2 separate regions of the Homo sapiens genome follow, and region 2 is linked to region 1. The links come from fine-mapping of genetic effects on gene expression. Tissue or cell type: whole blood. Region 1 holds a variant in brackets; the other region holds the start of a gene. All regions are shown on one strand. Distances are between the middles of the regions.

Region 1 (6,047 bases):
CGCTCCCAACACAGGATTCTTAATTTGTCTCTGAACACAGTCTTATGATGTCATCCTTGAAAACTGCACTGTGGGTCATAGAGATGTCATGGTCCATCTCTCTTTTTAATGTTTTCATATTCTTTTAAAGAATAGATCAAGGATTATAAAAGATTAAAAGTGAAAATCTCATTTCTACCTCTGTCTCGCATCCTTTCATTGTTCCCCTTCCCTCTCTGTACAGTTTCCCATTTGTTTTTGTGTATCCTTCTGGAGTTCTTCATGCAATTGGAAGCAAATATAGATACAGAGACTTATGTTTCTCATTTTTTTTACACAAAATGGCACAATCTTTTTATTAGGCAAGTCTCTTCCCCTTTGGAGCCTCATTTCCTGATTTCTGAAGAAAGGAGATTGCAGGCCTTGAGCTGTGGCCCACGCCTATAATCCCAGCACTTTAGGAGGCCAAGGCGGGCGGATCACGAGGTCAGGAGATCAAGACCATCCTGGGTAACACGGTGAAACCCCGTCTCTACTAAAAATACAAAAAATTAGCCGGGCATGGTGGCATGTGCCTGTAATCCCAGCTACTCAGGAGGCTGAGGCAGGAGTATCACTTGAACCCAGGAGGCGGAGCTTGCAGTGAGCCGAGATCGCGCCACTGCACTCCAGGCTGGGTGACAGAGGGAGACTCCATTTCGAAAAAAAAAAAAAAGGAGGTTGCACCAACTCTCCACAGTCCCTTCTCTCTGAGATTCTCAGATGCTGGGGATACATCAAGCCCCTGACACTCACTCTGCTTCTCTCAACAATGTTTAGCTTTTTGGAAAGTCACACTTGTATGGCTGGTTTTGTCAGTGACCTCAAATTTAAGCACCCGGGGTGTGGTTTGCAGACATTGGTATTTCATGCTTTAAGAAAATCCAGTACACAAATGTCAACATTTCCAAAGCAAATTAGGGAGTGTCTGTTTGCGTTAAAAATGAACCTTGCAAAAATGATTCATCAAAAGTTTTTTTTCCTGTATTTGCATATATTTTTTCACTAAATAAATAATACCTGGTACAAAATTCAAAAGAGTATACAATGAAAACCTTCCACCTTGATCCCCAGCCACTGAGCTCCCTTCCCCATGGGTCACGTCTTACCAGTTTCTTCTGCATCCTTCCATATTCTTTGCATATGCAAACATAACTGTACATATATATTTTTTTAAATAACACTCTAAACATACAGTTTTGCACCTTATTATCCTTTGCTGAAAAATATACTTTGGAAAGCCTTCCAGATCATCAGGAGAAATAGAAATGCCTCAGTCCTTTTTTTTTTTTTTTTTTGAGGCGGAGTCTTGCTCTGTAGCCTAGTGCAGTGGCGTGATCTTGGCTCACTGCAACCTCCGCCTCCTGGGTCCCAGTTCAAGCAGTTCTCCTGTCTCAGCCTCCCGAGTAGCTGGGACTACAGGCACCTGCCACCACGCCCGGCTAATTTTTTGGATTTTTAGTAGAGACAGGGTTTCACCGTGTTATCTAGGATGGTCTCGATCTCCTGACCTCGTAATCTGCCCGCCTTGGCCTCCCAAAGTGCTGGGATTACAGGCGTGAGCCACCGCGCCTGGCCAATGCTCAGCTAATTTTTGTAGTTTTAGCAGAGACAGGGTTTCACCATGTTGGCCAAGCTGGTCTTGAACTCCTGACCTCGTGATCCGCCTGCCTCGGCCTCCCAAAGTGCTGGGATTACAGGTGTGAGCCACTGAGCCCAGTCCCCTTCTTTTTTTTTTTAAGGGCTTCATAATTTTCCATTGACAGATAGATCAAAATGAATTTTATCTAAATGGGGCTGTTTTTCATAGTGAACTCAACTATTCCATTGACAATCTGATTTAATTCCTGCAGCCTTATTTTCAGTTGCACTCTATTGCAGGAAACAAGATACTCTCAGGGTGCTTCCATCTGTGCACAGTGCACAATGAGCAGGCATCAGTGTCTACAAACAGATGTGCCAACAGAAACTCACAAGTGTTTTCACCTCTGAAACCTTAGGATTGAATCTCAGATTAGTTAAAGATCCTCAGTTTAATCTTCCTAATTTTTAGAGTAACTTTTTCCATTTCCTGATTTTTAGAATGAGCTTCCGTCTCTCTTTCTCTCCTCATTACTGAAAGTGGAACAATCTAATGCTGCTTTTCTGTTTTTCTTTTCGGCTCCAAGCTTTTGAAACCAGCCCCATTCTCCAAGGTTCTTACTTAACTCACTGAAGACTACTAGCAGCTTTTACCCTATGCTGGTCCTCACCTCTGCCCTCAAAACTTCTCCACAGTCACATTCAATATCAGAATAGATATTGAAAGAAAGAATTTTGATCAGAGGCCGGGGATGATGAGATATTGATCTCCCAGCCCTCAGGGCAGCCAAGGGGCTCAGGCAG[C/G]CTTGAGTAGCCTCATCATTCATTTACCTCTGGGGATGTACAAAGGGTATGATTTTTCATGTGTGACCGTGAAAAAAGTTGAGAAGCTCTAATGAGCACCATGAGAGGAAACACTGTCGTTAGTGTTTGGCACATGCTGTGTTCTCAGTTAATATGTGGTTGATTGATTGGCTAGTTGAATGACATAATCAGGAGTTACGTACTCAATAAATAGTAGATATTATGACTATTGTCATGACTATATCTTCTCGCTGTTCTTTGTGCCTCAACCCAAAGGAAGAAGAATACAGGATATCCAACAGATATTTTACTAATTAATTACTATTACTATTATTTGTCTATTTATTTGAGACAGAGTCTCACTCTGTTGCCCAGGCTGGAGTGCAGTGGCACGATGCTGGCTCACTGCAACCACTGTCTCCCACGTTCAAGCGATTCTTCTGCTTCAGCCTCCCGAGTAGCTGGGATTACAGCCGTGTGCCACCACACCTGGCTAATTTTTGTATTTTTAGTAGAGATGGGATTTTACCATGTTGGCCAAGCTTGTCTCGAACTCCTGACCTCAGGTGATCTACCCACCTTGGCCTCCCAAAGTGCTGGGATTACAGGCATGAGCCATCGCTCCTGACCTATTATTATTACTTTTTTAGAGACAAGGTATCACTCTGTCACCCATGCTGGAGAGCAGTGGCACTATCATCACTCACTGCAGCCTCGACCTCCTGAGGATCAAGTAATCTTCCTGCCTTAGCCTCCTGAGTAGCTGGGACTACAGGCACTACCACCGTGCCTGGTTAATTTTTTTTTTAATTTTTTGTAAAGACAGGGTCTCACTATGTTGCCCAAGCTGGTCTCAAATTTTGACCTTAAGCAATCCTCCCACTTCTGCCTCCCAAAGTGCTGGGATTACAGGCATGGGCCACCACACCTGGCCCAGTGGATATTTTATAATTCTAATCCTAGTTGACGTTTTATTTCCACTTACTTAAAATACTCACTTCCCTTAGTTCTGGGACATGGCACTCTCCTGCTTTTCCTCCTACCTTCTGACTCTTCACAGATTCTTCTTCTTCCAAGGGCCTTTAAATGTTGGGGTTTTCCCAAGTTTGGCTCTTCAGCCTCTTCCATCTCCCTGAGCTGAGTCAATATTTCCCAAGACTCAAGAAGACAAACTATTCTGATGAATCCCAAATTGACATTTTCAGCCCATACTCCTCTTCTGAGCTACCAGACCCATGTACCCAGCTGCCTACCTGTCCTCTCTTCATGAATTGACTGAGATGAAACTGACTATCGAAAGGAATGAGAGCTTCAAATAGAAACACTGGAAAAGTATAGGAAGATGACATTTTTCTTATACACCTGGAATTTGTAACCACTGTAATGACTAGTTCAAATCCTTTCTGCCTTCTTCAGTTCTTTGGTTTTGCCAACCCTTCCAACCCATCCACACTCCTGATGCCCCTCCCCAGTTAGCAGATCCTACCATGTCACAGAGAAAGTAGAGGCTGTAGACAGCTCCCTCTTCTGCCACCAAGTCTACAGGCATCTGCATCCACTCTCATTCTTTTCTCCTCCCTTTTAGGCCACACTCCTACCTGGTCTATGGCTTGTGTCACTTCCTCGCTCTTTAGGAGTCTCCATCCTGTCTTTTACCTTCCCTCTGGACAGGCTGCTTCCTCCTGATGTTTGTACGTGTGCAAAGACTCCCTATCGGAAAAGCCTCTTCCTTCGACCTCAAGTCCAGCTTTCACTACTGCCATTCACCACTTCTTTCACAGCCAAGTTTCTGGGAAGAGTTTTCTCCATTTACCATCTCTTATTTCTACACCTTCCATGTGTCTCGACCTCCTGCAATTTTGACTTCTGGCCAGGCACAGTTGCTCACACCTGTAATCCCAGCACTTTGGGAGGCCAAGGGAGGCAGATCACGAGGTCAGGAGTTCGAGACCAGCCTGGCCAACATGGTGAAATCTTGTCTCTACTAAAAGTACAAAAATTAGCTGGGCATGGTGGTGCACACCTGTAATCCCAGCTACTCGGGAGGCTGAGCCAGGTGAATTGCTCGAACCCAGGAGGCGGAGGTTGTAGTGAGCGGAGATTGTACCCCTGCACTCCAGCCTGGGTGACAAAGCAAGACTCCATCTTGGGAAAAAAAAATTTTTTTTGCTTTCTTCCCACAACTTGCTCCAGCTGTACTTGACAACGTCAGCACCAATGTCCTCCATGGTATTTCAATGGACTCTTCTTGGTCTTTATTTTGCTTGGCCTCTCTGCAGCATTTGCCACCATGGACCAGTCCCTTCCTGAAGTTCTCTGTTTACTCATCATCTTCCTCATGACAATGTTTTTAAAATGGTTCTGAGTGGCTCACCAGGTAATTGCCAGCCCAGGGACTGGATTTTCTTTCTACCTTCACAAACATCTAGTTATCTCTAACTCACCCTTCAGGTCTCTGCTCAGGGAGCCCTTCCCTGTCCCCCTGGACTGGTTTGCGTGGTTTCCTGGGCTTTGCCAGAGCAGCAATTATCACAGATTGCAATTAGATGTGCTAGGGTCATTCTATACCCCCAGATTTTCCCCTGGGTTGTATTTAATTTCCAAGGACTTCGCTGATGGCAAGACATAGGGGAGGGAGGCTTTCTGCTCCTGCATATCATCTGTTATACTGGCTGAGCTGAAATGTACTGAACGAGAACAATCTTCACACACACTAGATTAAAGTGATCTGAATGTTCCCCCTCATTCTCACAAATTTTCATTTTTTCCCTGTTTCTTTGTTAATGGACTATTTGCATGCAAATTTCCCTGTGTTTTTCCAGACATTGTCCAAAGTCATAATTGTAAATTATTAAAGCAGCAATCCCCCAGGTGGCCTGATAGTGGCCACACACCCTCCTTGTACAAGATTTAACCTAACAACCACTGAACACGCAAAACAGTTTTCAGGGAATTCCTCTCATCCCCATTCCTAATTCCCTGGTGCAGTTATTGCGGGGGCACAGCACAGGGCCTGGGAGCCACAAGCTTCTGAATTCTCCAGTCACGTTCCCCTCAGTCCGAGGACCTGATCTCATCTGGAGGTAGATTCCTGCAAGCCTCAAATGTTGTCTTTGTGCATGAGTCCTTTCTCTTTCCCACAAGATCATGGCTCAAAAACCAACAAAAGTCTCCTTCCTCTTTGGGTTCATGTTGTCCTAAGCTGAGACAATTTAGTTCACTGGGGGAAAGCCGTGGAGAAAAGAAAATCCTGGGGATGAAACCCATAGTTAATATTCTAAAATAGCATCATGACACAGTGCATGTACTGTGGATATTGAGAATCTAGGGAAAATGGGCTTTGAGACAACAGACAAATCCAGAACTGCCCCATGTTCTTAAGAGGTAGACAAATAGGTATAGCAGGAGGAGAAAGGATCATTTTGCCAGAAATTAGAAACAGGAAGTCTTGGCCAGGCATGGTGGCTTATGCCTGTAATCCCAGCACTTTGGGAGGCTGAAGCGGGCAGATCATGAGGCCAGGAGTTAGACAACAGCCTGGCCAACATGGTGAAAACCCATCTCTACTACAAATACAAAAATTAGCTAGGTGTGGTGGCAGGTGCCTGTAATCCCAACTACTCAGGAGGCTGAGGCAGGAGAAT
Region 2 (5,524 bases), 120 kb before region 1:
GGTTGCAGTGAGCCATGATCCCACCACTGCACTCCAGCCTGAGTGACAGGGCAAGACTCTGTCTCAGAAAACAAAAGAAAACGAACATTTAGCAAATTTAATTATTCGAGAGAGACAGTTCAAAATCTAGGGATTTTTGGTTTGTTTTTATATTTACTACATAAGCTTAGTCGGTAGAAATGAGGATTAGCTTTTTGTATGACAATTTACAATAGCTATTATTTAAAAAATATTTTTATTCTTAAGAGTCAACCTTGACCGGGCGTGGTGGCTTGCGCCTGTAATCCCAGCACTTTGGGATGCCGAGGCGGGTGGATCACGAGGTCAGGAGATCGAGACCATCTTGGCTAACATGGTGAAACCCCATCTCTACTAAAAATACAAAAAATTAGCCGGGCACAGTGGCGGGCGCCTGTAGTCCCAGCTACTCGAGAGGCTGAGGCAGGAGAATGGCGTGAACCTGGGAGGGGGATTAAGTCCAGAAGATCGAGGCTGCAGTGAGTGGTGATCACCCAGCCTGAGCAACAAAGGGAGACACTGTCTCAAAAAAAAAAAAAGAAGAAGGTTTTGGTTTCAGATACAAATAAATATCAGAGACTCGGGGTCTTGAGATACCTACATTAAATTAGAAATAAAATGATAAAAACCAGCAAACACCTATGCTTTCTGTGAATATACATTTCTCATATCCCGTCTCCTTGATGTCTGCCCAAAAAAGGTACCCAGTCTGATATGCTGTTCATTATATGAAATTTTAGCCAAAAGTTGAACCATTAACTATTAAAAGTCATGTTATCACTTATTTATTTTGGATGATGGATAACGGGTGTTTATTATATCTTTCTGTATGCTTTAATTTCCAAAATGAAAGTGTTTAAAAAATAATAATAAGACTCGGTAGTTAGCCTGATTCTCCAAACTTCAGGCCAGATTTTTGTATACCACAAATCTGCAGCCAGTGCAGTGGCTCATGCCTGTAATCCCCAAACTTAGGGAGGCAGAAGCAGGAGGATAGCTTGAGCCTAGGAGTTCAAGACCTGCCTGGGCAACAGAATAAGAACTCCATTCTCCACAAAAAGAAAAAAAAAAAAAAAAAGAAAGACAATATACAAATCTACGGGAAGGAATCTTTCCAGAAAGGAAGAATTTGTTTCAAGAACTGTTTTGCAGGAATATCAGAAGGTTTTTTATTTTTCTTTGACTCAAAGGCTGTAACACTGTACTTTATAAAAATGGAAATAAAGGCATTAGTTTGAACAATCCTCTATGCTGCTACTGTTGTAAAGTTTGGAGCCTATAACTCACTCAAATTGGTTTATAGCCATGTGTTTACTAAATCTTTTTTCATATTCCTTTTCTCCAGGCATACAGGAATTTATATCTCACAGCCTTCTTAGAGTCAGTCAGGTTGAGCCTGGTGACTAGTTCAGGACAGTGAAACGTCAGCAGAAGTGAAAAGGCCACTCACTTCTGGCAGAGGCAAAGGAGAGCCCTTACAGGATTCTCCAATCTAGCTCTTCTGCCAGCCCGGAAGTGCTGGGAGGGCAGAGCCACTGACGCAAGCAGCAGGGAAGCTGAGTCACCATGGGGACGTGAGACTGACTTACAGATGACGAGTGCAGCCTCACAGCCTAGTCCATGTTGAGATAAACACAATACAGTCCTGCATACTTTATAGTCATAAACGAGGGAGAATAGAAATGGAAAATGACCCTCTAGGCCTCTAAGACCAAATTATAATGAAAAAATTTATGTCTTCAGTTTTGAAAATTAAATTTTTTGACCCTGATAAAACAAATTTGCTATACAAGTATCCGTTAACCGTGTGAAACCTACTGAGTCAAACTATTTTCTTACATTCCTTCCACTTCAACACCAATTCTAATCCAATTCCAAATTAGTTTTCAGAGAGTCTCTTGTAAGGAAAAGGAGAATCGACTTCGAATTTTAAAATTTGTGCTATTATTAGTTTATAGAGCTTTCAACAATTTACAAATAGTTTGCATAATCAGTATATTTAATTAGTATATATAGACATATATATATATATTTGAGAGGGAACTTCACTGCAACCTCCCAGTTGCCTCCTGGGTTCAAGTGATTCTCCTGCCTCAGCCTCCCAAACAGCTAGGGTTATAGGCGCCCACCACCACGCCCGGCTAATTTTTGTATTTTTAGCAGAGACAGGGTTTCATCATGTTGGCCAGGCTGGTCTGGAATGCCCAACCTCAGGTGATCTGCCCGCCTCGGCCTCCCAAAGTGCAAGGATTACAGGCGTGAGCCACCAAGCCCGGCCTAGTGTAATTTTTAAAAGTACAAAAGCCACTAGAAACCGTGACAATAAGAACTTCCTTTTGGGTTTTCCAGCATTTGGTTCATAGGACATGGACCATATATAGATGTTTTTTGAATGCTGAAATCTTTTACTCATAACACAGTTTTCCCAGTAACTTGCTTCCGGTTGATTTAAAATTTGTAATACACCTTTGTAATAGCAGGTACCTTCATGAAACTCAGTATTTGAGAAAAATGTGGAGTTTTTCCCCCTTTCTTTTGGCCAGAATGTATATCCAGGGTAGTGACTTTCGAGCAAATGCGTTTAAGCAACTCCAGTATTCTTACTACGCTACCTCCAACCTCGCTCCACGCATGGGGAGATCAGGGTTCCACATTTTCGGGTAAGCATTAGCCGTCCTGGCGCTGCACGAGCGTATTCTACAATTCCGAAAACTACTAACTTTTCCGTCTGCAACCTTTAATAATTGAGAGGGTATGCGCAACTCAGAAAAGTGCGCCCGCTGAGGTTGGGTGCAGAGTGGACTGGAGGAAAGGCGACACCCATTTACGGTGCGGCCCCGGACGGGGTCCCCAGACACGGCCTTCCCGGCGTGCCACGCGCGGAGGGGACTCTTAACGTGAAGCGCTGGGTGACTCAGCCGCGTGGCCGCGCGGTCCGGGGCGGGGGGCGCGCGCCGCTGCGGCACAGCCGGTCCCGGCTGCGGCTTCTGGCTGCGCGGCCTGCGCGCGCCTCCCGGGCGGATTCCAGCCCCGAGCGGGACAGCGCGGCGGGGAGCGACGAGTAAGTGGCGGCGCGGTACGGTTTCGGGCGCGAAGACCGGGCAGGGAGAGTGTGGCGGCGGGCGTGGCCCGAGTCTTCCCTTTGTGGCCGAGGGGGCGTCTCCTCCGGACGCGGCGGCGGTTCGGACCCCCGAGTCGAAAGGCCGCGGGGCTGAGCTGGGCGCGAGGAACCTGTGGGCAGCGGCTTGATGGGCTCCTGTTTCCGCGCGGAGGGCAGAGTCTGGTGATCCTGGGGAGGGAGGCGACGCTGCGCCCAGGTGGTGGGCACAGCTGAAGTGTAACTTGACTGCTTGACTGCTTTTTGCAGGCCTCGGGTGGTTCATCCCGCCGGAGAGGAATGGCGAGAACCTGGAGTGTTGACTGGCAAAACATTTGCAGACGCGGTTTTTCTGGCAATTAATTGGCTCCATTAAAAATTAGGTAGTTGGTGGGGACTTCCTCCTGAACTCTGGAGCCGAGCGCATTTTGCTCGGTCTTTTCAGCCCTGTTTCCGCGTCTTCCTTCCCTGCCACCCGCAAATTGCCAGCTTTCATCCGTGGCTCTGAGTGCAAAAGAGCTGGGGAAAGCCTTAACCAGCAATTTTCTTTTAAATAAAACTTTGCTTTTTATAGCAGTGTCTTCAGGTTTAGAAGCCCAGTTCTGCACTATGAGAAAACTCTTCTATTTTGGAGTTTGTGATTCTTTCTGAAAATTCCTCAGTTGAAGAGATTTATTTTTAAATAAGAATCTAGTGAACAAACTAACATGATAAACAAGGCTGTGAAGGAACTGTTTAACCAGCTTATGAAAATATGTCCCAGAGTCCTTAGTTTTGTTCCTGTTCGCTGTGCGAGAAGTTGAGGTAGTTTTTTAATGGTCTTCAAAACAAAGTGTTGTAGTAGTGTCTGTCGGATGTGATGAATCCAGAGTCAGAGGACTTCCGCTCAAGGCCCCCACCTGAAACCCCAATTCCTAGGCCATAGTTCTGAAACAGAAGATTGTTCCTTAGTAATAAGGTTGCAGTACCCTAGCACCTCTTCCATAAATTTGATTCTAGAGATTTGTGATGGGTCCCTGAGTCTGGGATTTAAGCAAGCACCTGCACTCTTGGTCTGTTACTGATGATCCAGGGACCGACCACACGTTGACAGACACCACCTTTAGGCTGGGCTGGGAATTTTAAAAACTGCCCAACAGCCTTAACCCTTTGTCGATGTTTTCCTCCCCTGCCCTAAACCAGTCGTAGGACAAGAAGCCCTGACTCTCCAGAAGCCAATATGAGAAAAGATAGTGCTTTTTTTGACCCTGACACGGGGTAGGAAATGATTTTCATGCATATTCCGATATTGCTCTGATGGTTTAGAGATAGCCCATTAATCTTTTCCTTCTGAGGGCTGCTTCTAGTATCATCAGAGCTTAATGCCATTAGGCCAAATCTCCTCCGCCCAGCTCACTCAAGTCTCCCCATGGAACCAGGGCAGCCAATGCCATATAATTCCCATGGCCTTGACTGTCATATTATCTGGTATGTAGCAGTACTAGTAGCATTATGAGGGCTTTCAGTTCAGCTGGACGTTAATTTAGTCATCAAATACCTGCGTAATGCCTATTTTCCTCAAAGCACTGTAGTAGGCTGTTTTATCAACAGCATTGCAATATAGACACATATTTCTGGCACAGAGTTGCATTCCTCCTTTGAGGCAGAAATGAGGGCTGGATAAACTCCACTGCTGCCAAAAGGTTCTCTTTATTCATCCACAATTTGTTCCTTCCTGTTATGCCAGAAATACACGTACTATTCCAATAATCTCGTTTTCCTTAAGAAGTTAAGAAATACATTGTATTAGGCCTAACTGTAGTAGTTAGGTCAGTCTTAAATTCTGTAACAGAAGCCGGGCGTGGTGGCTCATGCCTGTAATCCCAGCAATTTGGGAAGCCGAGGCAGATGGATCACCTGAGGTCAGGAGTTTCAGACCAGCCTGGCCAACCTGGTGAAACCCTGTCTCTACTAAAAATACAAAAATAAGCCAGGCATGGTGGTGGGCACCTGTAATCCCAGCTACACGGGAGGCTGAGGCCGGAGAATCACTTGAATCCGGGAGGCAGAGGTTGCAGTGAGCCGAGATCGCGCCATTGTACTCCAGCCTGGGCAACAGAGTGAGACTCCGTCTCAAAAAAAAAAAAAAAAAAAAATCTGTAACAGAGACATCTAGTAACTTTGGTAAGGACAATAATACACGCATTTTTATATTTATTATTCCCCCTTCAAATAGATGTGTAGAGATGAGGTTAGAATTAGGCCATGTGTTTCTGTGACTTTTTTCCTCTCTTTGGTGTCTGATTTATCTTATTGAATCTTTTTCTGTTGATTCATAAAATGTCATGTCTTTCCTTCTGTAGCCCTGAGCTTCCTGATTGTTGTGTCTTCCTCTGGCCTTCAATCTGATCTTCCTGCCCCTCTTTGGCT

The links. PIP is the estimated chance that this variant, and not a neighbour inherited with it, causes the effect.
Region 2: it holds the start of KCTD20, and the variant in region 1 is fine-mapped to the expression of KCTD20 in whole blood (TOPMed, PIP above 0.99).

Annotation. Positions count from the first base shown.
Region 1 is chr6:36,557,082-36,563,128 of GRCh38, forward strand. No RefSeq gene overlaps it. Among named protein-coding and RNA genes, the nearest start is that of STK38, 13 kb to the left of the region's middle. The variant C/G (reference allele first, on the strand shown) is at 2,404.
Region 2 is chr6:36,440,033-36,445,556 of GRCh38, forward strand. KCTD20 (potassium channel tetramerization domain containing 20) reads left to right here and starts at 2,968. Exons shown (of 8, transcript NM_173562.5): 1 at 2,968-3,079. It overlaps PXT1 (peroxisomal testis enriched protein 1), which reads right to left and starts at 2,822. Exons shown (of 5, transcript NM_152990.4): 1 at 2,503-2,822. RefSeq lists enhancers at 1,289-1,836, 3,321-3,420, 4,026-4,085 and silencers at 1,643-1,712, 2,871-3,160.